Homo sapiens: one gene and its partners. The protein of the gene in region 4 interacts with the protein of the main gene of each other region in a pairwise test. Each region holds a gene or a part of one and is shown on either strand. Other genes may lie near its edges.

What was found.
Region 1: the proteins of FFAR2 (region 4) and TSPO2 interact in binary tests that used the Homo sapiens proteins (3 or more experiments, as listed by UniProt).
Region 2: the proteins of FFAR2 (region 4) and SLC35B4 interact in binary tests that used the Homo sapiens proteins (3 or more experiments, as listed by UniProt).
Region 3: the proteins of FFAR2 (region 4) and PEX16 interact in binary tests that used the Homo sapiens proteins (3 or more experiments, as listed by UniProt).

Annotation. Positions count from the first base shown.
Region 1 is NC_000006.12:41,038,402-41,044,849, forward strand, and holds TSPO2 (translocator protein 2), read left to right. Parts: upstream 1-4,065; 5' UTR 4,066-4,377; exon of another isoform or gene 4,378-4,407; intron 4,408-4,564; 5' UTR 4,565-4,584; coding exon 4,585-4,757; intron 4,758-5,155; coding exon 5,156-5,297; intron 5,298-5,538; coding exon 5,539-5,736; 3' UTR 5,737-5,936; downstream 5,937-6,448. UniProt on the Homo sapiens protein: Cholesterol-binding protein involved in the redistribution of cholesterol from lipid droplets to the endoplasmic reticulum. Required to meet cholesterol demands during erythropoietic differentiation.
Region 2 is NC_000007.14:134,306,920-134,313,944, forward strand, and holds part of SLC35B4 (nucleotide sugar transporter SLC35B4), read right to left. Parts: intron 2,561-7,025; coding exon 2,447-2,560; intron 1-2,446. UniProt on the Homo sapiens protein: Antiporter that transports nucleotide sugars across the endoplasmic reticulum (ER) membrane in exchange for another nucleotide sugar.
Region 3 is NC_000011.10:45,914,878-45,921,960, reverse strand, and holds the start of PEX16 (peroxisomal biogenesis factor 16), read left to right. Parts: upstream 1-4,083; 5' UTR 4,084-4,149; coding exon 4,150-4,261; intron 4,262-4,467; coding exon 4,468-4,503; intron 4,504-4,819; exon of another isoform or gene 4,820-4,962; coding exon of another isoform or gene 4,963-4,987; intron 4,988-5,657; coding exon 5,658-5,734; intron 5,735-6,124; coding exon 6,125-6,258; intron 6,259-6,392; coding exon 6,393-6,493; intron 6,494-7,083. UniProt on the Homo sapiens protein: Required for peroxisome membrane biogenesis. May play a role in early stages of peroxisome assembly. Can recruit other peroxisomal proteins, such as PEX3 and PMP34, to de novo peroxisomes derived from the endoplasmic reticulum (ER).
Region 4 is NC_000019.10:35,444,000-35,451,267, forward strand, and holds the start of FFAR2 (free fatty acid receptor 2), read left to right. Parts: upstream 1-4,257; 5' UTR 4,258-4,380; intron 4,381-4,823; exon of another isoform or gene 4,824-4,946; intron 4,947-5,042; exon of another isoform or gene 5,043-5,201; intron 5,202-5,219; exon of another isoform or gene 5,220-5,343; intron 5,344-5,714; 5' UTR 5,715-5,715; coding exon 5,716-6,708; 3' UTR 6,709-7,268. UniProt on the Homo sapiens protein: G protein-coupled receptor that is activated by a major product of dietary fiber digestion, the short chain fatty acids (SCFAs), and that plays a role in the regulation of whole-body energy homeostasis and in intestinal immunity.

The DNA of each region.
Region 1 (6,448 bases), on a different chromosome or scaffold from region 4:
TCACTGGGTGGTGCAGTAGAGTCCCCTGGCTCAACCTCCGACCCTGGAGAAGTTGGCATGCACCACTCCCAAAGCCCCACTGGGCCTCTCCCAGGGTGACTGCTCTTCCAGGCTGCCCTGGCCCTCACTGCATCCTCCCTCTGGCTCCAGAATGGGGAAAGGTCCGGAGTCTTGCTGAATGGCAACTATAGCACTGCAGCCATTCGAGTGTGACTTGGGGCATCCCAACCCCATGCCTGGACTCCTCATTACCCACTCCTCCAGTCTGTCTTGCTCCAGACCCCAGATCACCCTGGGTAGCGGGTCCCCGAAACGAGAGTCCTTTAGAATGCTGCCATCACCTGTCCCTAGGCAGTTGCATCCTCCAGCACAAAGATCCAAACTCCTGCTGCAAAGTTCTGCTCATACCCTTTAAGAAAACTCTCAACCTTTCCTCCACCTCACTGGTTCTCCCTGTGCCTCCCCAACACCTGATAGATGTCCAGTTACTGCAGAACATAACAAGTACTGGGATGGATGGTCCAAACCCAAGTCATGAATGGCATTTGTTAGTATAGTAGACATTTCCGCAGGACACAGAATCATCCCAGTGGTCCTCATACCCATTGGCCAAGTCCCATTTTCCTCCCCTCCTCCAGCAGAGGGTCCCTACACTCCAGCAGGCAGGCTAAGCTGGCCTGGCTCCTCCCCCGAAGCTCCAGGTAACCCCATCACAATGCCCATCCCCTCTCCAGCTGCCCCAAGGGGGTGCTCAACTTACCGTCTAGGAGCTCTTAGAGGCTGCTGGCTGGTCCAGTTCCTTCTCCGAGAAACAAGGGTCAGCCAGATTCAGTCGGCAGGCCAGCAGACAAGTGGAGGTGGGCGGGGAATCCAGGCAGGAGTGGCCTGGCATTTCCTGGCAGAGCCCTGCCTCCCAGCTGTCTAAAGAGGGGTGAGGGAGAGTGTCCCTGTCTATTGGCAAAGTCCAGCCCAGGTAAGGGATTAGCTGAGGATCCCAGAAGTCAGTGAACTTTCCAGTCTAGGTCTGGAAGGAAGGAGGGAGGCAGGGAGACAACCTGGGTGTAGGTGCTGCACCTTGAAACCCCTCCTTACAGTGCCCTCTGCTGGTGAGTGGCTGTCCCCAGCCAGAGGCTATTATTAAAATAGCAGATAGGAGGAGGAGGGAACCTTCATCTGAGTTTCTTAAACTATAATGTGCACAACAGTCACCTGGGAGATCTTGTTAAAATGCAGGCTCTGATTCTGTAGGTCTAGTATGGGGCCTGAGATTCTGCAGCTCAAAGAAGCTCCCAGCTGATGCCAATGCAACCGGTCCAAGGAGCTTAGAGAGCATCTAGTTCCACCCGCTCCCCACACAGAGAAGACAGTGGAGCCACTGAGACGGTTAATGACTCACCAGTTGCTGGTGGACCTGAGATGTACCCATATTTTTCCTTACACAAGGTGCTTTCTACTTCCCCCACCCAAAGTTGGCAGAGACACTGCCGGTTGGGAGACAACTGAACTTTGGGGCCATTTGCCATTCTGAGTTCTTAAAACTCTGCCTAGGAGCGGTGGCACCACAAGAATGAAAACTCCTTGTGGAACTTTTCCCATGTTTTCGGCTGTCTCCTCAGCTCCTGGTACAGCCTGATAGATAGAAGGTGTTCAATAAACATGTCTTGAATGAATGAGTGAAGCAGTTGAGAGGGAAAAGGATGCATTTTGGCTCCAACTGGCCAACACTGAGCCCAGGTGAGCCACACGTTGGGTATGTAATATTGGGCAAGCTACTTAACTCCTCTGAACCTCAATTCCCTTGTCTGTCAAATGCAGTTAAGAATATCTACCTTGTGTGAGATAATAATTGTCATTATTGAGCTAATAAATGTCAAATGCCCACCACAGAATGGGTGGTCAATAGATGGTAACCGTTGTCACCAGGGTCTGGCCTCCTGCAGTTGAGGAGGCATGGTGAACGCCCCCCCAGGCCCCTAGTTATCATCTCCCATAGAAAATAAGTAACTTCCTCTGCTTTTGTCTCAGTTAATAATTCTCTAGCCTCTTGTCTCTGACTGCAATGCCCTCCCCTCTGCTTCCTTCCCTGGTGGAGGTGAGAGGGTGGAATAAACCTCCCAGGGGAGCCCAGTACCCCAAAGTGCAGAGATGGTAGAGAGCGGGCAACCTGGGAAGCAGACCTCATGCCTAAAGACAAGCCAGGAAGGGGTGCTCAGAACTTTGATAGGGAATGAAAGGAGTGGGGTAGGGGTGTTTGTCTTTGTTGAACAAAGCTCTGTCTGAGTCACACAGGAGGCTGGACTTTGCCAACAGACAGGGACACTCTCCCCTACCCCTCTTTAGGGCGGCTGGGAGGCAGGACTTTCTGCCAGGAAGCGCCAGGTCACTCCTCCTTGACTCCCCACCCACCTCCACTTGTCAGCTGCCTTCTCCTCTGAGTCATAAAGTCCTAGGGGTTTGTGAAAGATCTGTCAAGCTAGGGTTCTAAGCCAGGAAGGTCATGCCAACCAGGAGGCTATAACCAGGGGCTGTGTTCATGGATTATGAACTCACTTCCCAAGCTAGTTCTTGCCACTCTTGGGGACAATCCCAATTATAAGGAGGCTCTGAAGAAATGTGAAGGCTCCTACCACTCACTCCCATGGCCACAGAGCTGGTTCATGGGATGCAAAGACCACAGGCATCAACAGCATTATAACTGGGGGCTGAGCTGTCACAGGAGGGCCAGTGTCAAACCCTCACCACAAGCCCTCAAACATTCCATCAAGGGGTAGCCTCCAGAGGCCAGGCACCAAGGAGGGTCTGGCAGACCAGAGGGGCTCCTCCTGAGAGGAACTCTTTGGGGCCATGAAACAGCAACTTGGACTTCCCAGCCAGTGTCACCACCCTTCTCATCTGAGAAAGGCAGATCAGCAGGGAGCACCACTCCACCCTCCTCCCAGCCCCACCCTCCTCCCAGCCCCACCCTCCTCTGCCTTCCACACATCATATGTCATCAGGCCCCCCGCCTGGGAGGTGTGCTGCCAGAGGTAAGGGGAGCACAGGCCTAGGAACCAGGAGGCACTGGGAGAGGCAGGTGTCAGGAGAAAAGAGGATGGGGGCAGGGAGGGGCAGGGAGGGGGCCTCCACCACTGGACAGAAATGTAGAAAAACAGGAAGGCAGAAGATGAGCAAACGGACAGTCAGGAGCACAGAAAGACAAGTAGAAATATGCACAGGTGGGCATGCTGCTCAGCTCTGTCCCAGAACCTCCAGGACCAGTGTCCCTGACCCTTGACAGAAAAGGATGGATTAGGGCCAGGCACAGTGGCTCATGCCTGTAATCCCAGCACTTTGGGAGGCCAAGGCGGGTGGATCACCTGAGGTCAGGAGTTCGAGACCAGCCTGACCAACATGGCAAAACCCCATCTCTACTAAAAATACAAAATTAGCCGGGCATGGTGGCGCACGCCTGTAATCCCAGCTACTAGGGAGGCTGAGACAGGAGAATCACTTGAACTAGGGAGGCAGAGGTTGCAGTGAGCCGAGATTGCACCACTGCACTCCAGCCTGGACAACAAGAGTGAAACTCTGTATGAAAAGAAAAAAAAAAAAAGGATGGATTAGATAGTCAGTCCAGAATACTGAAAATAATCAGATTGTTTTCTCTCCTTCAAATCTGGTTAATCATGGGGGGAGGCTGAAATATCATGAACAAATGAGAAGAATGATATTTGTGGGGCCTTGGTGGGGCCTTGGCTGGAGGAGGGTCTGTACATTGTCCCACATGCAAATGACATGCAAAGCAACATGCCACCTTGGCAGCTTTTTAATCAAAGACCAGGCAGTTGTTTCCTTGAAAAGTCAGGCCACAAGAAACCTGGATGCTTGTGCTTACATCCTGACACTCTGGGAATGGAAAGATGGAGCAGGAAGCTCATACCCCATGGCTCCAGGGGTAGAAGAGAGCTAAAAGTTCAGAAAAAGGAATCCACGGTGTCAACAGGCCAAGTTTGAATTTGGGCAGGAGATCAGCCTGGGTGGGCCCCATGAGTGTGCCAGTCTGATATGGTGAGATAAGCCTGGGACAGATGTGCTGCCGCATTCGTGACTAGAAAAGAGTCCCCAGGAATTTCTGGCTCCTGCCTTCAGATTGTGAACTTTCCAGGTTGGTAGATCAGCTTAGGTAGAACAGTTCTCGGTGAGGGCCAGCTACATACCTGGCTAAGCGCTGCCCACTGCAGAAAAGCTCATCACCCGGGACCTGATCTCCAGGACTCAGAAGCACTTGGAGGAAGGCCTATTCACTTAGAAGCAGTTACCAGTGCTGGGCAGTGTCCTCCAAGTGCCAGAGGAGTGCTGTGGAGAAAAGAAGTCCATGGAAGCCAGGAGATGGGCAAGGTGTGGCCTGGGGTTGGAGAGAGCTCAGAGGTACAGGACTGGAGCTGGGCCAGGGAGAGAGGAAGGACCTCCGTGAGTAGACCTTCTCTGAGGGGCTCAGGCCAGGAAATGAGTCAGGTTAGGAGGCAGAGACAGACGAGGAGCCGCAGGGGAAGGCTCATCACTAGCATGTTCTCTGCCTCCCCAGATTTTGCCTCTTCAAGGTGAATGCGGCTTCAAGGGGCTATCTTTGTGCTCCTGCCCCACCTGGGGCCCATCCTGGTCTGGCTGTTCACTCGTGATCACATGTCTGGTTGGTGTGAGGGCCCGAGGATGCTGTCCTGGTGCCCATTCTACAAAGTCTTATTGCTTGTACAGACAGCCATCTACTCTGTCGTGGGGTGAGTACTTGTTTCTCACACATGGCCCTGGTACCCAATGGGGTGGGAACAAGTCCTCTATATCTGAATTACTCCCATATATTGGCCTCCAAAGGTAGGCGCTTTGTCTTGCCTCTCACCACCATAGTGGGTCCTCCAGAAAGTAAGAAACCCTCTATGCCTGCCTGGGGTTCCAGTTAGCCCTTCTTCCACCCTCTCTAAGTCTCCCCAGCCCCTCCTCCACCTCACCATGCCCAGCTCCTCCCACCAACTCCCTCCCTGGCCCTTACATGATGCCTAAACCCATCTGCCCCCATTTCAGCCCACAAGGGTATCCAAGAGTCCTTATGCCAGAGAGCCTCCTCCATTTGCCACGGAACCTCCTCCCACTGAATGTTTTTGCCACCATGTCTCCACAGCTATGCCTCCTACCTGGTGTGGAAGGACCTGGGAGGGGGCTTGGGGTGGCCCCTGGCCCTGCCTCTTGGCCTCTATGCTGTTCAGCTCACCATCAGCTGGACTGTCCTGGTTCTCTTTTTCACAGTCCACAACCCTGGTCTGGTAAGGCACACAGTGCTCAGTAGCAGAAGTAATGTGGGAGAGGGTGAAACCACCTGGCTCCAGAAGCACATAATTCAGCAGAGCAATTGAGTGCAGGCAGGTAATGGGTGGGCAGACTTCTCTGCACTCCCATGGTGTGCACAGAGCCCCAGGGACTGAGCTCGTTGCTGGGCTGGGTACTGCAGAAAGGTGGAGGTGCTGGTTCTCGGGCAGCCAGCTGACCCCCGGCCTCTATGCCCAGGCCCTGCTGCACCTGCTGCTGCTGTATGGGCTGGTGGTGAGCACAGCACTGATCTGGCATCCCATCAACAAACTGGCTGCCCTGTTACTGCTGCCCTACCTAGCCTGGCTCACCGTGACTTCAGCCCTCACCTACCACCTGTGGAGGGACAGCCTTTGTCCAGTGCACCAGCCTCAGCCCACGGAGAAGAGTGACTGAGGCCCTAGGGCATGGGAGAGGAGGGACGCCCAGGGTGGGGAGGAAGAGTCTGCAAGCAGGGCTGTGGAGTTAGGGTTCACCCCAATGGGACCACCCTCCTGGGTCCCCTGGTGCCGTTTTTCCTTAGAAATCAGAGAAATGGGAAAGGGGGGGAAACTGATTTTACACTTAAATAATAAAATCCTATTAGTAACTCTGAAGGTATGATGTGAAGTGTGTATTTGAATGCATAATATGATGACTAGGGCGGCAGAGTGGGATAGAAGCTTCTGGACCTCTGTGTGAGTGTGTGCGCGTGAATGAATGTGTGAAGGCCCATGGGGGAGGGGTGGGCACACCAGCTCGCCTCCATTCACATGCCTCCCCACCTGGCATAAAGATTTAGCACTCAGATGTTTAATTACCTGAAAAACAAAAGGCTTTTTAAAAGTGACAAAAAAGCCAAAACAGAAAAATACACCTTAAAAAAGGGTACTAGGGGGCCAGGAGTGGTGGCTCACACCTGTAATCCCAGCACTTTGGGAGGCCAAGGCGGGTGGATCATGAGGTCAGGAGTTCGAGACCAGCCTGGCCAACATGGTGAAACCCTGCCTCCAAAAATACAAACATTAGCTGGGTGCAGTGGTGAGTACCTGTAGTCCTAGCTACTCAGGAAGCTGAGGCAGGAGAATCACTTGAACCCGGGGAAGAGGAGGTTGCAGTGAGCCGAGAT
Region 2 (7,025 bases), on a different chromosome or scaffold from region 4:
ACTAAGTACATATCAAAACGCTTCACAAAGCCAGACTAACATGGGAAAATCTAAGTTATAAAATACATTTAAAGAAACACTATTTAAAAATTTTCAAGTATACATAGCAACTTAAAATGATTGTATTGATTCTTTGTAAATAATTTTCATATACCTCTGAAGAACTTGAAAATGGCTGATTTTCTCAAATACCTCCTCTATACACTTGTTTGTACTGTTAATTTTCGCTGTTTCTAAAGAAAGTATTTGCTAAGTTAAGGATTATTTTCAGCCTAGCAGCTGCTAAAATTCTCCCGCATTCTGAACTAGTGGCCTCCAAATTAATGAGGACATGGTTTGACTTGTACAGATTTTTATTTAAAATCAGGGTCTCTGTTTTTTGAAAGTTTATAGGTCTTAAAATAATAGAAACAAAAACTAAAAAAAAAAAAAAATCCAGTAACCCTAATAACTTAAAGGGATAAATACAAATGAATTATTATGAACAGATGGATTAAACAAATAATTTTACATTTGTATGTCATCACTGTGATTCAGAAAATACATAAGATGCCTTCTACATATATTGGGCCAAACCATATAAAATTGCCGTTTTTATAGGTCAAAAAGAGTTGAATGTCAGAAATTTCATATGACTCAACTTCCTATATTGAGTAAGAGAAAAAAACAGCATTTAAAATAAATGGCTAAAGAATGCAGGGCAAAAGCAAATAAGTGGTTCCATATTCTTCAGGAAATGTTGATCTTGGAGATTCCCAACCATTTTCCACCTTTGCACATCTGAAGGATATGACAGCACTGAGTCCTAAGTGATCTTCCCTGAAAGAACCGATTCTGCGTTGCTAGTTAGGTGTGGAGCCATACACCACAACAGGCAGTCAAGCCAAGGCTGAATTAATATAGTCTGGAAAGTCTGAGGAACTTGACAATGAACACATATGCAAAATTACCAGCAACAGCTTCTTCACAGCTTCTAAATAATATACTATCAGCGACTTTACAAAGTTTCTTGCCAAATTTTCTTAGTTCTACCTTGAAGAGGTGCCATTTACAGAGTTTGTCAAGGTCTTTTAGGGTAATTAATTTAACTATTCCACATTGCTTGCCTAGAAATTGTGGATGGGGATGAACGACATGAGCAAAATTTTGTTTATGGCTCCACCTACAGAAAATAAAATGGCCAACACACATAGGACATGCATGAGAATATGGTTATGAGGGCAAGATCACAGAGACCCTCAAAGGGCAGGATGGGGAGTCTGGACATCATTCAGAACATCGTGGTAACCACAGAGTGGGGCGACATGATAAAACGATATTAAGTGAAATTGATGGATGAAGAGGTGGGAGGCAGGGAAGTCAGCCAGCTAGGATGCTATTATAAAAGATATGGTGACAGGGTATACTTCCTGATCTATGCTAGTGGTGGAGAGAATGGGGAGAGATAGTGGGAAGAGGCAGGAAAGGGCCAGAGGAGTCAAGAAATGCTGGGGCTTTTACTGCAATATAAATGCTGGTCTTTAGGGGCAGAAAGTTTTATGCAGATACTAAAGCAAATGAAAAACTAAAAGTATCTGGAATATTTAGCATCGCACTGGGAACTTTAAAAGTATAATATTAACAAAATTCAGCCAGATTTTCTATAGCAGGCTACGTAAGAATGCTGCAAAAGAAAACCAACAAAGATGGGCCTTTGCCTTCATACTTGGATATATTCACACCAGAATGTCGCTCTAAACGGGAGTAAGTGACATCATCCTACTAAATACTCACAACTGGATGGATTACACTTTTATCTCAAGTCACTCTCAGCAAGAAGGCTGAGTTTTCAATACACTGTTTAACATAAGAACTGCCCTGTTTTCTATTTGGCCCCATGAGTACAATTATGCACATTTGGACTAATGTACTACAGGTCTGGCATCAACAAATTTTGACTTTGCTTGCCATTCATTTTCTTTTAATTGAGGTGAAATTCACATAACATAAAATTAACCATTTTAAAGTGAACAATTCCGTGGCATTTAGTACATTCACAAAGTTATGTAACTACTACCTCTATTTATTTCCAAAAGCCATTCGTTTTTAAAAAGAAACAAGGATACTCCCCTTTTAGAATGTTTGATAACTTCACCAACACAGAAGACAGCACAAAATTTGTGGTCACACTAGGCCTTCTGACTAATCCTATACTAAATAAGAACACACACACATACACACTCTTGTCTCCATCATGGTTATTTTAAATCTTGTGGCAGAAATTTTATTTTCGAAGTAGGTACCCCGGATTTTCACAACATATTAAATTCAGAAAATGACTTATTATTCTACTGGTATCTTTGAAATAAATCTTATAAAAGAATGTCTCATCCTCCTTTTATACAGGTACCACCTCTTTACTTTCTTAAAAAATCCAAAAGCTAAAAGAGACTCTAATGTACCATACCTTATTGGGATAGCTGGTGGCTTCCTTCCCAAATCAGCTTCAAAGAGGAAGCCTTCCACAGCAATAAATAAAAATTGTGCAAATGTCACAATGTTCCCACATCCTGGATGCTTCCTGTATAGTGAATAATAAAAGAGGGGGTGAAGGCACAAAAACTGAGATACAGAACACTAAAATGCATTCTAATTAGAGGGCCAGAATAACAGCGTGGATGGATTTCAATTACCCACTGTCCTTTATCTCAATGTTCATAGCCTTTGGATCACATATACTTAGCATTGATCTCACAGAGAAGAATGTCAAGCTTTCTTATTTAACTCTTCCTTGCGTGTATCAGGCCATGAGTGAGAATTACTGTGACGACACACTTGTTCCCAGAACTACGATACAGCTTTCCTAGTAAACTGCAGGAAATTGGTCATATGTTCTTATTGGGATCTTTGCTTCACCAGAAAGGTCTTTAATCAGGATCCCAGTCAGCTTAGGTAGCAAAGCCCAGGGACAGAAATATGCTCAGGTCTCCTGGAATGTTTATATATCCCTCCTGACCAGGAATCACCAAGACTGCTGTCAAACGAAAAATGGACCCAGTGTTGATGATAGGAACATTACTTTAAATGGTGCCCAGCAACGGGGCAAAATTGGTTCTTGGGATGGGGGAGATATCTTACTCTTTTTATAACAATAAAGTACAAATATACATACAGTACCTGAACCAGTACACACTATATCTATGGCAGGGGAGGGATTAAGAAAACAACGTCTAAAAAGTATTCTGGAGGAGGCATAATGAACAAAAGACTGAAAAACACTGCCGTAGTCTACTATTCTCTACAGCTCTTAACCCAGTGTTTTGAATATATTAGGCACTCAAAAAATGTTTGTGGAATTCAATAGAGTCTCTTTAGTGATCTGTGAAACAGTTGGGGAAGATTCCCCACATTCAACAGTGATTGTTAGGAACAAATTTACAAAGTTAAAAACTTCCTCCTGACATTCATCTTGAGGCACTCTGAAAACTAGTCATTTAAAATGTTCAGGTTTTCTTGAGCTTGTCTTCCATTCAGCTCTGCTCAATCGCTGGAAGAAGAACAAAGTGAGCAGTTATCTTTGCTCTCCTGAAGCTTCCAGATTTCCTATAATACCAATATTCACCTGCCTTCGTATTCTGTGTTTTCATCTTTTTTTTTTTTTTTTGAGACAGAGTCTCGCTCTGTCGCCCAGGCTGGAGTGCAGTGGTGCCATCTTGGCTCACTGCAAGCTCCGCCTCCCGGGTTCGTGCCATTCTCCTGCCTCAGCCTCCCGAGGAGCTGGGACTACAGGTGCCCGCCACCAGGCCCGGCTAATTTTTTTGTTTTTTTTCAGTAGAGACAGCGTTTCACTGTGTTAGCCAGGATGGTCTCCACCTCCTGACCTTGCGATCCACCTGCCTCGGCCTCCCAAAGTGCTGGGATTACAGGCGTGAGCCACCACACCCGGCCTCTGTATTTTCATCTTGACCAAAGGCATTTACCTGAAGCTGGTGAGAGGTATGTAATTGTATTATTACATATTAATATACTGCTACTTACCAGAAATGACTCCATTCTCCATTGGTATTAGTATTATACAGCAATGCCAAGATATACAAGTCCTTAAATATACCCATTAGGCACAAAAATAAGACAATACAGGCATGAGCCATTCTTCTACAGAACTAGGCTTACTAACTGAAACAGAAATGTTGCTACTCTTTAAGCTCTGCTGCCTATGAAGGTTTCCTTGAAAACTGCTTTCTATTCAATTCAACAAGTTCTCTTTTAGCACTTCTTATGTTCAAAGGACAAGGCTAAATGCAGGAATCCATAAATAATCATGTAAGACATTTACCTCATTCAAGGACCTAATTAAAACCATTAGCCTAAATATGAGTGACAGAAGGAACTTTAACTCTAGATGGTTCCTAGCACGGTGCTTTGGAACTCGGGCCAGCCTACTCTGCTTTTTAAAAACCTGTTTCCCAAATGGTCGGCACGGTGGCTGGCTCACACCTATAATCCCAGCACTTTGGGAGGCTAAGGCAGGTGGATCACCTGAGGTCAGGAGTTCGAGACCAGCTTGGCCAACATGGTGAAACCCATCTCTACTAAAAATACAAAAATTAGCCAGATGTGGTGGTGCATGCCTGTAATCCCAGCTACTCGGGAGGCTGAGGCAGGAGAATCACTTGAACCTGGGAGGTGGAGGTTGCAGTGAGCCGAGATCATGCCACTGCCCTCCAGCCTGGGTGACAAAGCAAGACTCTTGTCTCAAAAACAAACAACAACAACAAAAAAACCTATTTACCCAAAGAGGCTCACTCTCCCACTTCTAATTTGATTAGTCTGGGGTAGGACCCTGGAATCTGTACTTTTAAAAGCTTTCCACTTGATTGTCACATGCAGCCAGGTTGGAGAAATACCAGTCAAGGTGCAGGGAAAGGGCTGAGAGTGTATGTGAGTGCATGTGTCGCTGTATATGTGAATGCACAGGTAGTTCTCAGGTGCTGACACAAGGTTGAGAACCACTATGCTCCACTGTGCTTAAAAGTACACACCGACATGCGATATGTTGCTCTGTCACTTGCTATGTGACAGAAGTGAATTAATTTATCTAAGTCTAGTGTTTTTATCTTTAAAATGGAAACCATATGAGTGCCTATCTCTGATTTATTGTAGAGTAAATGAGCCATCCCTGAAAAGCACTTAACACAGCGCCTGCCACAGAGTGAAAAAGGCAAATATGATGACCAGTATTTAGGATCTTGCAGGCTGAAAGGTCTTCAGCCTTTAAAAGACATTCCAGTTGACTAAGTTTTCTCATCTCTAAAATGAAACTGATTTCACTGTCGTAGTGAGTATTCAATGAGAAAATACATGTAAGTGCCAAGCACAAGAGGTAATCCAAAAGAGGCTTCAAAGTTTCCTTCTATGTTCTCTTTAACAAGTTTAGGCCAAGTCAACTAAAGAACAATTATCAAGACTCAATTATGTGTAGAGTTAGGTGGCTGCTTCCAGGGAGCCCCCAACTTGAATGGGACTGGATCCCTGCCCAAGAAGATGACAATATGGGAGAGCCAGATGCGAAGGAGGACGTCAGAAGCCAGTGCCTTAGCAGGGATGGTGATGGGACAGACCATGTCCCATTTACCTTTCTGCTCTCACTTTCGGGTCAGTGACCCACCTTTACTCAAGCAAGAGAATGAATGTGAGGGTTCCAATGTGATCTAGAATCTTATAATTTCTACAAAAGATAAAAAGAGATTTAAAAAATGATTCACATGACATGTGTATTCGCTATAGGATTTTTAAAAAGGGCATCTTAATACTTTTTATTTTATGGAGGTGGGTATTGATATGCCCATTTCATTCCATTTCTAAAGACGCTGAGGGTCCCATTGCACTGCGTCAGGTAAGTCTCCCAGCGGTCAACGGCAAATAAATGGCATTTGCGGTTACCCTTAGCATTATGATTATTACAATTCAGTGGGGTTAAGTATGGGTTTTTAGTTGTGCAATAATTGCCACTATCTAATGTTAGGACACTCCCAAGAGATACTCTATTCCCATTTTGAGTCACTTTCCATTTCTTCCTTTTCCCAGTCCAGCAATAACCCTATTCTACTTTTTGTTTCTATTTCTATAGAATTTAAAAATCTCCCTAATGTACTCAAATAATTTAATTTTTGAAAGCTCAACTTATGAAGCCTTTTCGAAACACACTGTTGTATAGCTACCAATGGAATTATTTATTTTAACTTGAATAATTCATTTTAAAACTTCAGAGTAAAAACTTGGATCCCTTAATCTTGTTTTCTTGAGCTCTCTTCCTCAGGAATTGTAATCACTAACTGCAAACAGTTTCTCTTACTTTGAATTCTCTTGGCAAAAATTCCAATTTTTATTTAAAAAAGAATGCAACTTTGAAGAGAATGAATTGGGCAGATCGTTTATGCCGTTTGCATTTCTTTTGCTGAATTTAGGAAACTATTTAATTCAAGATCAGGCACTTGAATGAAAAATAAAATAGGAAAAAAAATGTTTCAGATTGTTTTTCTGGTGTAAGGCAAGCAATAATATCTTGCCTAGTTAGTTAGCTGGTGTGTGTATATCTTGTTTCCAAGGTAGAATGTAAGCTCCCTAAGGAGGAATATCAAGGCACTCGTCCATTACTACCTATCTGCTCTGTCCACTGCATTGTGTTTTATTATTGGTCCCAATCATAGGGATAAAAATCAGAAAGAAAAGCCTGAGTTTGTTTTCCAATTTGGGGAAAATGGTTAAAAATGTCCTCTTCTTCCTGCAAGTCACTTAGCATTTATATTTAGTGTTATACTTGCTACTTATTAGGGCACCTACTGGCTCCAAGCCAGCCAATATAAAAAGCACAGTTCCTAGGCTATAAAAATTTATGGGGCTTCCACTGTGATGTCCCAAGATAAAGTCACAAATTCCAAGGCCATATCTAGAAAGAACCTTAAGGCCATCTGGTTCAACTAGCTCTTATTTTATTGATCTGTAACACAAGAAGTGGAGACTTGTCTTAGGAAAAGGCTCTATTC
Region 3 (7,083 bases), on a different chromosome or scaffold from region 4:
CCCCATAGCAGGCCAGGGAATGGGTGGGGGGCGCTCTGGACCCTAAACCAGCACAGCGTGCCAGGCCCTGTGCTAAGGATTTAATCACCCTCGATTAATCCCATGATGCGGGCTAATTCTCCCCCGGAGAGTTTAAGTGACCTGTTAGACAAGAACACCCTCCGGCCCCTCCCGTCTCAAGCGGCCCCACTCCGTTCCCCAGGCTCTGCGCTGCAGAAGCAGCTTTCTTGCTCCTCCTCCGGAAGGGTCTCCCGCCCCAGGACTTGCCCTTGACGTTCCTTCTGGCAGCGGAGCCTCCCAGGGCTGGCTAGCACTCATGGAAAGTTGAAGTTGTTTGCTTGTTTATTGCAGGTCTCCCTCCCAGAATGTAAGCTGCTCACCGGACTGGAACCTTGTCTGTCCAGTCCCCAGTGCCCAACCAGGGCCTGCACATACCAAGTGCTCAATACCTGTTGAAAGTGGATTGGAATGAGAATCTCCCCTCCCATGACCTGGAAAGGGGGCTCAGGCTGTGTCATTTGCCCAACTTCTGGCTGCAAAAAGTGAGGCAAACTCAAAAGAAGCTGTGGAAAGCAGCCCAACCTGAGACCCCCTTTCTCTGGGAGATGGGGAAGGTCAGGCTTTGGGTCTCTGGAGGGCAGGGATAATGGTTGCTATGGAGACTGATGGTGGCTCCTTGTGCACCCAGAAATTGAGAAGGGCCATGCACTGGCCACTCAGGCGTCTGGAGCTTGAGCCTCCAGCCTCCCTGATCTTCATCTGTAGCCTAAAGCTGGGGTGGGGAAATGTGATTCCCTCTCCAGGACCCTCAACAGAGACGGTTTGTGGGGGTTAAACATGTGAGACCAGGCCAGAACAGTGGCTTATGCCTGTAATCCCAGCACTTTGGAAGGCCAAGGCAGGTGGATTGCTTGAGCCCAGGAATTTGAGACTAGCCTGCTCAATGCGGCCAAACTGTATGACTGCAAAAAATACAAAAATTGCTGGGCGTGGTGGCATGTGCCTAGTACTTGGGAGGCTGAGGTAGGAGGACTACCTGAACCCAGGAGGTCAAGCCTGCTGTGAGTTGTAATCACACCACTGCACTCCAGCCTGGGTGACAGAGTGAGACCTTGTCTCTAAAAACAAACAAACACCATATGGGATCCATAGTTGGGTGCTGGCCCAGGATGAGTCTTCAATAAAGGGGCTGGGGGAGTCAGTGCAGGAAGCTGGGTCTGCAGATCTCACTGTAGTCACTCACAATGTTGGCCCTTCTTCTGGCTCAACCTCACCACTCAGGGAAACTGAAGTGCTGAGATACCTGCTAGGCCCCCAAGGGGTTGTTCTGGGGGCGTGGAGGGAGAAAGAGGGACACGTATGGGCATATAAACAGGTGCTGTTCCTCTTGGCCTAAGACCCATTTTGACCCAGCTCTGCCCAGGACTTTGCTGTGTGACCCTATTAGACGAGTGAGGCTCCATCTCTGGGCCTCTGGTACTCTCGTAGGTAAATGTTGGACTGGTCTACCTCTCTTCCCCTGTGACTTGGGGCAAACTGAAGGAGAGAGGATACGGCTCAATCTGCCCAAAGGTCCTTCCAGCCCAACAAAGACGGCCAAGCCCAGGCAGGGGGCCAGGGAGCAGGGGAGGGGCCTCCTGCACACACCGCAACTCTTTGTCTCTGGGCCCTAATCCGGCCTGGGATCTAGAGAGGAAATTCAGGCAGCCCTGCTGCTGCCAAGCTGGCTAGACCCATGCTCCCCTTCCCAGTTCTGCAGGGAGGGAGAAGAAACTGGTTCCAGCCCAAGCCCCTTCCTATTCTGTCCTGGGGAGTCTGCCCCTCTCCCCTCCACACCTTGCTCTCAGAATCAGGACCTCCAGCCCAAGGAGTGCTGAAGAACCTCAAATTCTCTCTCTGTACCCTCTCCACAGCTGCAGAGGGAGGGCTGGAGGAGTGGCCAAACTGGAGGTTTGAGGAACAAGTTCACTAAGGTGTTGGTGCACAGCAGGGCCCTGCAGGGCTCAGTGGCTCACACCTATAATCCCAGCACTTTAGGAGGCTGAGGTAAGCGGATCACCTGAGGTCAGAAGTTCGAGACCAGCCTGGCCAACATGGCGAAACCTCGTCTCTACTAAAAATACAAAAATTAGTCAGGCGTGGTGGCGGGCGCCTGTAGGCCCAGCTAATCGGGAGGCTGAGGCAGGAGAATTGCTTGAACCTGGGAGGCAAAGTTTGCAGTGAGCTGAGATTGCACCATTGCACTCCAGCCTGGGCGACAGTGAGACTCCGTCTCAAAAACAAACAAACAAACAAACAAAAAACAAGGTGGGGCAGAGGAAGGGAGAAGGAGCCTCACCTTGAGGGCCCTGAGCCTAGGTCCTAATCCCAGTTGCTAACTGGCCTTATGACCAAGGAGCCTCAACATGTCACAGCTTTTGTGGGCTGTGGGCAGTAGGAGAGAGGGCACTGCCACTGGAGACCTGCGCTGTGGCCTCTTTGGCCAGTGCCTTGCTGTGCCATGTGGGACAAATCCTTTCCCCTCCTTATTGGGCCCTAATTTCCCATCTGTGAACAGTTCATAGCAACTTGGGGCTGCTGGGAGGAGGGCAAGCAAGCCTGGAACCCAGAGCGTGGCCAGAAATGATGTCGACGATGCCCATGACCACCTCCTCTGTTCTCCAAGACCTTTGCCTCTCCTCAGGCCCCTGGTCACCTTTCCCTGGGTCTTCGTTCTTTGATGTGAGAAGAGGGCAGCTTTAATCCCCCACCTGATAGAGAAGAAAACTAAGCTGTGGAGTAGGGTGGAGTGAGGGAGTGGAAGGAAGGTTGTGGTTTCCTGGTGAGGTGTGATGCTTAGACCTGGTCTCTAAAAATAAAATTAAAGTTAAAAAAAATGAATTAAAAAAAACCGCCTAGTCTCTGAGGTCAGAAAAGACCAACACTCAAATTTTGGCTGGGCGTTCTTAAAAGGATGCTTTCTTCATCTGGAGATATCTGGTGGAGAGGATTAGGTAAAATAATGTATTACTATTCTCAGGGTACCATAAATCCGCTGGCCCGCTCCCTCAGGCCACTGGCCCACGGCTCCACCCATGTCACGCCCCTTTCCCCGCAGCCAATCAGCGCTACCTCCCCAGAGCGCCCGTTCCCTCCACCACTCGCCGCAGATCTCCCGGTGCCACCCGTTCCAGGGAGGCTGCTTGGTTTGGGAAGATACTCCCCAGGGGTCTCCCCTTCCCTTGGGGGCGCAGCTGAGGACTGCGAGGTGCGTCCGAGGGCCAGAAAGCTGAGATCGATTCTGAGTTCAAGGATCAAGTCTGCCCTCAAACCATTTTACAGATCGGGAAATCCGAGACCCAGAGAAGGGATACTCCCGCCCAAGGGCCACCGAGCCGAGAGAAGCCCGGGCCAGGGCTTTCTTCGCGTATGTGGGAATGCAGGCGCGAGCCCTTTGGGGGGCACAGTCCATACGGGAGCTGAGGCCGAAGCCGGAGCACTAACTGTGCTGTCTAGGGGATCGAGACGGCACTAGAGGGCTGGACTCCTTACTGCCTCAGTTTCCCCAGCACTACCTTTGTTGAGGAAACGGAGATGGGGATACTGGCCGAACGCGCGCCTGCTGAGACACAGTGCAACTGTATTTAGACGCCCCGCACCTCCCCAAATCTGATCGAGGCTCCTTTTTTCAAGCACCCGCTATCTCTCAGCCCTTTAAAATCCGGCCCTGCCGTTCGAGTCTCTCGGCGTTCCATTGGAAAGACTCGGGGCTCCAGCTCCCTTCTCTAGAATGAACTGCTCTGACTGCCGCCCGGCTTTACCGGAGCTTTAACTGCGCAGGCGCAAGGGCAGCCAACCCGGTAAACGGAAGAGCTGGGTGCTGACGGCGCTGGGCGGGTCAGGGGCGGAGAGCGTGCTAACCAATGACTTGAGGGAGTAGGGGGCCGGGTTTGGGCCCTCAGTTGCTAAGGGCTACCCGAGTGGGAAGCGGTTCAAGAGATGGGGTGAAGGGTGGTTCACCGGTTCTTCAAGTCCTCAGCCTTCTGGCCCGCGGAAGTTAAGCAACCAAGAGGCGGGCCTAAGACCGGAAGCAGGAAGGAGGGCGCAGGAAGCAGGGCGCCGCAGCCTGTCGTACGGTCCTTCTGTGGGTCTGTCGGTGCCGAGGGCAGGATGGAGAAGCTGCGGCTCCTGGGCCTCCGCTACCAGGAGTACGTGACTCGTCACCCGGCCGCCACGGCCCAGCTGGAGACAGCAGTGCGGGGCTTCAGTTACCTGCTGGCAGGTGCCACCCTGACCTTTGATCAGTTCCTTCTGGGCCCTGACCTATGACCCCAGTGGCCCCCTTCCCTGCGGAGTCAGGGTAGTGATCGCTGTGCTTGAGAAGACCCGTCCAGGTTCCCAAAGGGCGTAGGGAGGGGATTTCCGGGACCCGAAGACGAAATGTGAGGCAGATGCTCACTCACACCTCCTTCTGTACCCTCTCCCCAGGTCGATTCGCCGATTCGCACGAGCTGTCAGAGCTGGGTGAGCCGGGCTCTGGGGGTGGGGGATGGGGGATCGGCTGCCTGGCCCCTGGTGAGTTCCCCAGAGAGGGTGAGCACCCCAGCCCGAGGACCTGGGCTGCCCGTTAGACACCTTGTGCTATGACTGAATCGGCACAAGGTCTGTTGTTCATTGTCCTGGGCCCTCCATGTCCCTAAGTCAAGAGACACGTCTGGGGACCTTATCTGAGTATTCACTACTGGCCAGGCGCTGGACTAAGTGCCTTTCTTACCTTTACTTGTTAATCCTCCCTACAGTCATATTAAGTGGTACTTATTGTCATCACTGTCCATTTAAGGAAGAAGCTCAGTGAGGTTAGAGAACAGTCACTGATGGTCCCAGAACCAAGATTCAAGTCTAGATCTCCCAGATTCCAGGATTCCCAGATTGTAACTACCTCAAGAGTGTTTGCCCAGTGACTGCTGTCACAGTCCTGAAAGAATGCACTGGGTTTTGAAAAGCAGAGGTGAGGCCAGGTGCAGTGGCTCACACTTGTAATCCCAGCACTTTGGGAGGCAGAGGCAGGTGGATCACGTGAGGTCAGGAGTTCGAGACCAGCCTGGCCAACATGGTGAAACCCCATCTCTACTAAAAATACAAAAATTAGCTGGGCATGGTAGCAGGTGCCTGTAGTCCCAGCTACTTGAGAGGCTGAGGCAGGAGAATTGCTTGAACCTGGGAGGCAGAGGTTGCAGTGAGCCGAGATTGTGCCATTGCACTCCAGCCTGGGCAACAAGAGTGAAACTCCGACTCAGAAAAAAGAAAAGTGGAGGTGGAATAGACCCTCAGGAACAGGCTGCCAAGAGAGAAAGGGCCAGGAGGTGGGACCGTGTATCTGTGGCAGTTCAGAGAGCGATGGGCAGTTGTGGGCAGCTGGATGACCAGTGCCATCCAGCAGGGCAGTAACTGGCTTGTCACTGAGATTGACCCATCCTTTCTTGGTCCAGCCACCCTTGTGAGATCATGTTGGGGAGAGGGGAGTGCTGAGGAAGTGGGTGGAGAAGAAGGTTGGTTTCCACATAGTCTGTGGGTGTCTGAGCAGAGCATGTGACAGGTGATCCCTGCAGCTCTGGGGAGAAGGTGAGAGGGATGGAGGCTGCAGAGCCAGCCTCTCAAGGCCACTCTCTACCCCTCAGTGTACTCTGCCTCTAACCTGCTTGTGCTGCTCAATGACGGGATCCTACGGAAGGAGCTTCGGAAAAAGTTGCCTGTGGTGAGAATTCTGCCAAGAACAGGGTGGGAAGCATGGGGACTCAGGAATGAAATAGTAGCAGCTAGCCCATGCGTGCAGCACATGTCTCATGGAGTATGAGACAGGCCTATGTCCATCTGAGCCTCAAACCATCTCATTAGGTGACCTGTAAAGTGTGAGTATTCCCATCTTAGATGAAGAGACTGTCTCAGGTGAAGAGAGGTAGAGTCAGCTGTTTCAGGTCCCCCAGCCTGTTAATGGTGGAGTTGGTGTTTGAACTCACACCTGCACAGTTAGGCTTGGAAAGGGGAAGGTCCACATCTCTTGTCAGAGAAGCTCCCTCCTAGGAGAAGGGCCTGGGACTCCCTGTAGTCCCAGGCCCCCTGACTTCTTGGCCTGGGGTTCTTGCAGTCGCTGTCCCAGCAGAAGCTGCTGACATGGCTGAGCGTGCTGGAGTGCGTGGAGGTGTTCATGGAGATGGGAGCTGCCAAGGTGTGGGGTGAAGTGGGCCGCTGGCTTGTCATCGCCCTCGTCCAGCTGGCCAAGTAGGTTGGGATTGTGGAGAGGGTCCTGGGTGGGGGTGACGCAGGCTAGCTACACAGATGGTGCTCAGCAGAGCATCCCTGGCCTCCCGCCGGCTAGCCACCTCCCCACAACCCTGACATACTCCCCGACCCAGGGCTGTACTGCGGATGCTCCTGCTGCTCTGGTTCAAGGCTGGCCTCCAGACTTCACCCCCTATCGTTCCACTGGACAGAGAGACCCAGGCACAGCCCCCGGGTGAGCTACTTCCCCAAGCCCTGGAGCGGAATGGGCCATGGGACTAACTTGAGGATTTAGATCCAACCAGCATGAATACAGTAGTATCTGTTTATGGAGCACGCCTGTCCCTATCAACTATGTGTTCTCATTGCCATGTATTCGACAGAGAAGACAATGATGCGGCTAGGGACAAAATCAGAACACGAACCCAGTACTTGTCATGGCCAGAGTCATTCATTTTTGTAGCCTGCAGGAAGAGGGAACAGATGGGATGCCGCCAACCTCGACTCTGAGCCTGGTTCTGTGTCCAGAACCATAGCCTCTAGAGGCAGGAGGCAGGGCACGCACCACATCTGTCCCTTCAGGGCTTTGGGCCCATCCCGTCAGCTTCTGGGCCTCACTCTCTGGACATTGAGTTGGGGCCGTTCATTGCCTCTCATCATGATTGTTTTGAAGGCAAAGGATTGAGAGGAGACGGCCCCTCTGGTGCTGTGGTCTCCATAGATGTGGTCAGGCTGGGCCTTCCCTGCCTTGCCTGTCCATGGGTTCCGGGAGGCTGGCTCTGGCCACAGCTATGCTGAGCTTTCCCCAGGCTAGGGAGGGCTGCA
Region 4 (7,268 bases):
CACACAAAAATACCATGGCATACTTATTAGAATGCCCACAATTAAAAACTAACAATTGTCAAGTGTTGGTGAGGATGTGGAGCAACTGAAATGCTCGTAGGCTGCTGGTGGGAATGCAACATGGCACAGCTACTTTGGAAAACTGGTAGTTTCTTAAAAAGTTAATAAAACGTTTTACCATACCACCTGGCCAATACACTGCCAGGTATTTGCCCAACAGCACTGAAAACATTTCCACACAAGAATGTTCTTAACAGCTGTATTCATACTAGACAAAAACTTTTTAAAAAAAACCCAAACCAACCAAATATCCATCAACAGATGAATGGATAAATAAAATAGGAAATATCCTTAAAACAGAATACTATTCAGCAATAGAAAAGATGCTTAACCTGTAAGAGGGGAATCGAAATCTAGGAGGTCAGGGCCTTTTTTTTTTTTTTTTTTTTTTTTGAGACAGAGTCTTGCTCTGTCGCCCAGGCTGGAATGCAGTGGCGCAATCTTGGCTCACTGCAACCTCCGCCTCCTGGGTTCAAGTGATTCTCCTGCTTCAGCCTCCTGACTAGCTGGGATTACAGGCGTGCGCCACTATCCCGGCTAATTTTTGTATATTTAGTAGAGACGGGATTTCGCCATGTTGGCCAGGCTGGTCTCGAACTCCTTACCTCAGGTAATCCACCTGCCTCGGCCTCCCAAAGTGCTGGGATTACAGGTGTGAACCACTGTGCCCAGCCAGACAGGGATTTCTTAAGGAAGTAAATGGTTATCTGAAAGAAAGCTACAAATTAACTGTGAAAGTTGGAATGGGTAACAAGAAATAAAGACATACCAGGCAGGGGCTGGTTCAAGCTCCCCATGGCAGATGGAAAACATGACACATTCACAGAAGTGGAAAATGGCCCTGCCCAGACAGCAAAGAGAGAGAAGAGTGATGTGAGTGGAAGCTGGCAAGGGCCATGCTAGGCAGGCCTTTTTAAGGATGTTGATATTTCTCCTAAAAGCAGTGAGAAGTCTCTGAAAGGACAAGAAGGTCGTATAATTGGATTGACATTTTTAAAATGATTCCACTAATACAGTATGGAGAACTGACTGCCAGGGAAGCAGATGGATGAGAGGAAGTGAGTCAGGGCCCTGCTGAAATCCTGGTAGGGATGATGGCACTGAGATGGGATGATGGAGATGGAGACGGATGGATGGATTCATATTTGGAATCCATAAGTATTTGGGGAGTACATCAGACTGCATTCTAGGGATAAGGAAGAAGATAATATTGAGATTCACTTTAAGACTGACTCTAGTCAGGCTCAGTGGCTCACGCCTATAATCCCAGCACTTTGGGAGGCCAAGGCGGGCGAATCACTTGAGGTCAGGAGTTCGAGACCAGCCTGACCAACATGGTGAAACCCCGTTTCTACTAAAAATACAAAAATTAGCCGAGTGTGGTGGCACATGCCTGTAATCCCAGCTACTCGGGAGGCTGAGGCATGAGAATTGCTTGAATCTGGGAGGCAGAGGTGGCAGTGAGCCGAGACTATGTGCCACTGCACTCCAGCCTGGGCGACAGAGTGAGATTCAGTCTCGAAATTAAAAAGAAAAAAAAAAAAGACTGACTCTAAGATAATGGTGCAGGAGATGTGATGGGAAGAGATCTTACGCCCCAAGACAGGGAAGGGTGGAAGAAGGAAGATCTGAGGCCAGGTCTGGACACATTTGATTTGGTTGATTTGGGACACCTGTGAGACACCCAATGGCAGTGTCAACTAGGCAGTTGAGCGTGTACATGTGAAGCTCACAGAAACCTAGGGTGAAGATTCAAACCAGGGGTGTCATGAAGGTGGTAACTGGAACTACGGAAACAGTTGCAGTCGACTAGAAGGAGAGCACAGGCGAGAACAGGAAAGAACCTGGAGCCAAGCTTGAAGGAAGTCACCATTTCGGGGATGAGTAGGGGAATGGTGAGCTAGCAAAGGGGTACGAGAAGTGACCAAAGGAAAGAGAGGGAAGCTAGCAGCGTAACGTATCAGAATTTGTGAAAAGAGGATGTTTCCAGAAGGGCGTGGAAATTGTGTTGAATGCTAATAAAATAAGAAAAGCGTAAGTCCACTGAATTTAGGAACATGGAGGTCACTGCTAACATCGGGAAGAGAAAATCCCATGGAAAATAGGCACAGAACCCAGATTAGGGTGGACTGAGGGGCGAGTGAGAATTAAGAATGTGGAAGTGATTACACAGAACTTTAGATAAGGGTCCAACTTCCTGTGATGACAGGCTGCATTATAAAGACGATGAGAGAAAACTGAACTTGGAAGGAACTGTGAAGGATATTGCTCTTGTGAAAGTTTACCCCCTTGAACTCGGTCTGAGAGGTTGGGTTTCCTTTTCCTGTGACGTAGGTGGACATCATGAACTGTGAGACTGAAAGCCTCCTTGGTGATGCTCCCTTCATAACTGCGGTGAACATTCATAACTGCTGTGAACCCAGAGAGGGGGTTTCGTTGGGGCGTCTTCCACAGGGGGACTCACGACAGTGACGGCGAAAGGCAGGAGGTGGGGGGAGAAGAACGTGCAGAGACAGAGAGGCAGTCCCACTCCTCAACACTTGTTTTCCAATGAGTTTCCTGGATTCTGCAATTAAATCCAGATCCTCGTGCATGTTTATAGGAAATCATAAAAGCGAAATGACACAAATAAATTTGGTGGCAACAAGAGAGAATGGTCTCTTTCTTAGTTCTCCTGTTGATCTGAGAAGCGACGTGTGCTGGGGGAAGGAAATAAAGAACTAGAACGCCTTCAGAGGAGAGTAGAGTGGACGAGAAAGAAAAGCTAAATATCAAAATGTCTAGACCCTGGGGTTACAGACCACAAAAAGAATAAATGACTGACTGACTGAATGACTGAATGAATGGCAAACAATAGGAAGTAGGTATGTCCTAGGGAAAGAATGGGGATTCTGTGAGCAGGAATCAGGCCACAGATGGCAGAACAGAGACTTCTTTCTGAGACTTCCTCCCTAGTTCAAGAGGAAAACACGTTCCAACGATCCTTGCTGCATTAGGTGTGTATTTCAAAGGGACCTTCAGGAGCTCCTAACCTGGGGCTACCAAGGTCAGAGAGGGGGAAACAGTGAGACTTTATCAGGGAAAGGAATGGAGCCTGAGTGCCACTCCCTGACGAAAAGCCACATGGGCACGTGAACTCGGGCCTCCTGAATTCCTGACACTTTCCCAAGAGGGACAGCACATCCATGCCCTGAGCCTCTGGAGGCTGCACCAAGTGGCTCACTCTCTGTGAAGCTGCGTTACAGGCTTGAGACGAGGCAGCACTTACGGGCATCTGCTAAGTGCTTTATATACACAACCTCACTGAATCCTCGCAGAAGTCCTAGGATGTCAGAATTCGCATGCTCACTTGACTACAGCAAACTAGACTTCAGAAAACGGATCTGCCCCCAAGGTTGTAATGAAGGGACCTGGATTTGAGCCCATATCTGCATGACTATAACTCCCACACCATTTCCATCACAACAAGATGCAGGCCAGGACCAGCCTGTTTCAGCTGAGACGGGCAAAAGAAATGTGTTGGGGGCAGAGGGCAGGAGACCATAGAGAAAGTAAAAAAATTGAAGAAGAAAAGGAAGGAGTGCCGGGTGCAGTGGCTCACGCCTGTAATCGCAGCACTTTGGGAGGCCAAGGCAGGCGGATCACTTGAGGTCAGGAGTGCAAGACCAGCCAACATGGTGAAACCCTGTCTCTACTAAAAATACAGAAATTAGCTGGGCGTGGTGGCAGGTGCCTGTCATCCCAGGGAGGCTGACGCAGGAGAATCGCTTGGACTCGGGAGGCAGAGGTTGCAGTGAGCTGAGATGGCGCCACTGCACTCCAGCCTAGACAACAGAGCAAGATTCAGCCTCGAAAAAAAAAACCAAAAAAAAAGAGGAAAAATAAAAAGGAAGGAGGAAAGCTCATTTCTGAGAATGAGCAGAATGACAGAAGAAACTGCCTAAGAAAGAGAAAAGAAAATAATCTGACTTGGGAAGTAAAAAAAGAAAAATGCCTGGGAATTTTTTTTTTAAATCAGGAATTAAGGACAGAAAAATCTGAATTTGGAAGTCAAGAGTGAGGATTCTCTAGGGAGAGAATAAAGATGCTGGGCCTTTCCTTTGGGTTTGAGAGGAAATAGTGCTTAAAGACTGACCTTCCTTTCTCTGGTCACGTGGCTGGTGCTAGTATAAATGCTTACTACCAGCCAGGTTCCTCACCATTTTTTCCTGCATGGCATGGACAGAAGCAGGGGCTAAAGCTCTGTTCCTCTCTCCTGGAAGCTTGCAGACCTCCCTTCAGAACCAATCCCAAGAAGCCACCTATCCGGAACAACACAAGGCAAGGCAGCTAGTGTAGTGCTTGTGCTCTGGGAAGAGAGGCCAGGATCAGGTTTGAGGGGAAGGTTCTGGGAGACTGGAGGAAGGATGTCAGAACCAAATGGAAGACTCATACCCAGAGACAGGAGCTAGTGTGAGGAGCAAGGAAACAGCCAGGAAATCAAGGCTGGAGAGTGGACAGAGGGACAGGACCTGGGTTGGGGCCAGCAAGGGTGACACCCCAAGTGGAAACTGAGTTACCCCGTGAAGAAGACGAGTTCTATTTATGGTCAGAATGCCACGCTCAAGGGCCAGTGAAGGCCTGTGGGCTTTTCTGAATATTTCTCTAAGGTCTTCTAGGGACAAGCCTTCCTCCTAAGGCTAGTGCTGGTTCATCCTTCTTCCCCTCCACCCTCCTCTAAGCCTCCCAGCTTCCCCTTTTCTTTTCTTTTTTTTTTTTTTTAGACGGAGTTTTTGCTCTTACCGCCCAGGGTGGAGTGCAATGGCGCAATCTTGACTCACTGCAACCTCTGCTTCCCGGTTCAAGCGATTCTCCTGCCTCAGCCTACCAAGTAGCTGGGATTACAGGTGCCCGCCATATCACCCGGCTAATTTTTTTTTTTTTTAGTGGAGATGGGGTTTCACCACGTTGGCCAGGCTTGTTTCGAACTCCTGACTTCAGGTGATCTGCCCGCCTCGGCCTCCCAAAGTGCTGGGATTACAGAAGTGAGCCACTGCGCCCAGCCCCAGCTTCCCCTTTTCTAGAGAGTCCCAGAGTTTGGTGTTGGACAGGAGAGGACAAGGTGGGGGAGAATCTGTGCTCTGCAAAACAGACGAACGGAAGTAGGAAGCTGGGCTGGTGGCTGGGCACTTGGGTCCTTTGGAGAGCTGGCACTGGGTATCCGCGCCTGGGGCGCCACAGCCTCTTTATACTGATAAGCATCTTACAGCTCTCTCCCGGCACTGATGCCTTTCTCTCCTGCAGGTCTCTGTCTGAGAAAGGGACTTGAGTAAAGTTAGAAACTGGCAACAGTAACTTCCTGTATCTGTGAGGACAGGAGGAGAAAGGCTAGGGAAACTGGAGGGGGAATTCCCTTGGGAAGCCACGAGTTGGTCTCCTCCAGAGACACATGATGGCAAACATAATCACTACTGCTTAATATCCCGCCCCAGGCAAAGTCAATAATTGCTCTGGGTAGTTCGAGCAGGTGGTGTGAGCAAGCCGTGGTGGCATCAGAAAGCACAGTCCTGGGAAGGGGACGGTGCCGGGGAGGATGTCCGCATCCTGAAGGAGAGCTGGCTGCGCGGGCTGTGAGTGAGACCTCCCTGACCCCGCCCTTTTTTGTTCCCCTCCAGGATGCTGCCGGACTGGAAGAGCTCCTTGATCCTCATGGCTTACATCATCATCTTCCTCACTGGCCTCCCTGCCAACCTCCTGGCCCTGCGGGCCTTTGTGGGGCGGATCCGCCAGCCCCAGCCTGCACCTGTGCACATCCTCCTGCTGAGCCTGACGCTGGCCGACCTCCTCCTGCTGCTGCTGCTGCCCTTCAAGATCATCGAGGCTGCGTCGAACTTCCGCTGGTACCTGCCCAAGGTCGTCTGCGCCCTCACGAGTTTTGGCTTCTACAGCAGCATCTACTGCAGCACGTGGCTCCTGGCGGGCATCAGCATCGAGCGCTACCTGGGAGTGGCTTTCCCCGTGCAGTACAAGCTCTCCCGCCGGCCTCTGTATGGAGTGATTGCAGCTCTGGTGGCCTGGGTTATGTCCTTTGGTCACTGCACCATCGTGATCATCGTTCAATACTTGAACACGACTGAGCAGGTCAGAAGTGGCAATGAAATTACCTGCTACGAGAACTTCACCGATAACCAGTTGGACGTGGTGCTGCCCGTGCGGCTGGAGCTGTGCCTGGTGCTCTTCTTCATCCCCATGGCAGTCACCATCTTCTGCTACTGGCGTTTTGTGTGGATCATGCTCTCCCAGCCCCTTGTGGGGGCCCAGAGGCGGCGCCGAGCCGTGGGGCTGGCTGTGGTGACGCTGCTCAATTTCCTGGTGTGCTTCGGACCTTACAACGTGTCCCACCTGGTGGGGTATCACCAGAGAAAAAGCCCCTGGTGGCGGTCAATAGCCGTGGTGTTCAGTTCACTCAACGCCAGTCTGGACCCCCTGCTCTTCTATTTCTCTTCTTCAGTGGTGCGCAGGGCATTTGGGAGAGGGCTGCAGGTGCTGCGGAATCAGGGCTCCTCCCTGTTGGGACGCAGAGGCAAAGACACAGCAGAGGGGACAAATGAGGACAGGGGTGTGGGTCAAGGAGAAGGGATGCCAAGTTCGGACTTCACTACAGAGTAGCAGTTTCCCTGGACCTTCAGAGGTCGCCTGGGTTACACAGGAGCTGGGAAGCCTGGGAGAGGCGGAGCAGGAAGGCTCCCATCCAGATTCAGAAATCCTTAGACCCAGCCCAGGACTGCGACTTTGAAAAAAATGCCTTTCACCAGCTTGGTATCCCTTCCTGACTGAATTGTCCTACTCAAAGGAGCATAAGTCAGAGATGCACGAAGAAGTAGTTAGGTATAGAAGCACCTGCCGGGTGTGGTGGCTCATGCCTATAATCCCAGAACTTTGGGAGGCTGAGGCAGGTGGATCACTTGAGGTCGGGAGATTGAGAACATCCTGGTCAACATGGGAAAACCCCGTCTCTACTAAAAATACAAAAAAATTAGCTGGGCATGGTGGCACATGCCTATAATCCCAGCTACTCTGGAGGCTGAGGCAGGAGAATCCTTGAACCCGGGAGTTGGAGGTTGCAGTGAGCTGAGATCACGCCACTGCACTCCAGCCTAGCGACAGAGCAAGACTCCATTTAAAAAAAAAAAAAAAAAAAAAAAGAAGCACCTTCAGGCTGGAGAAGC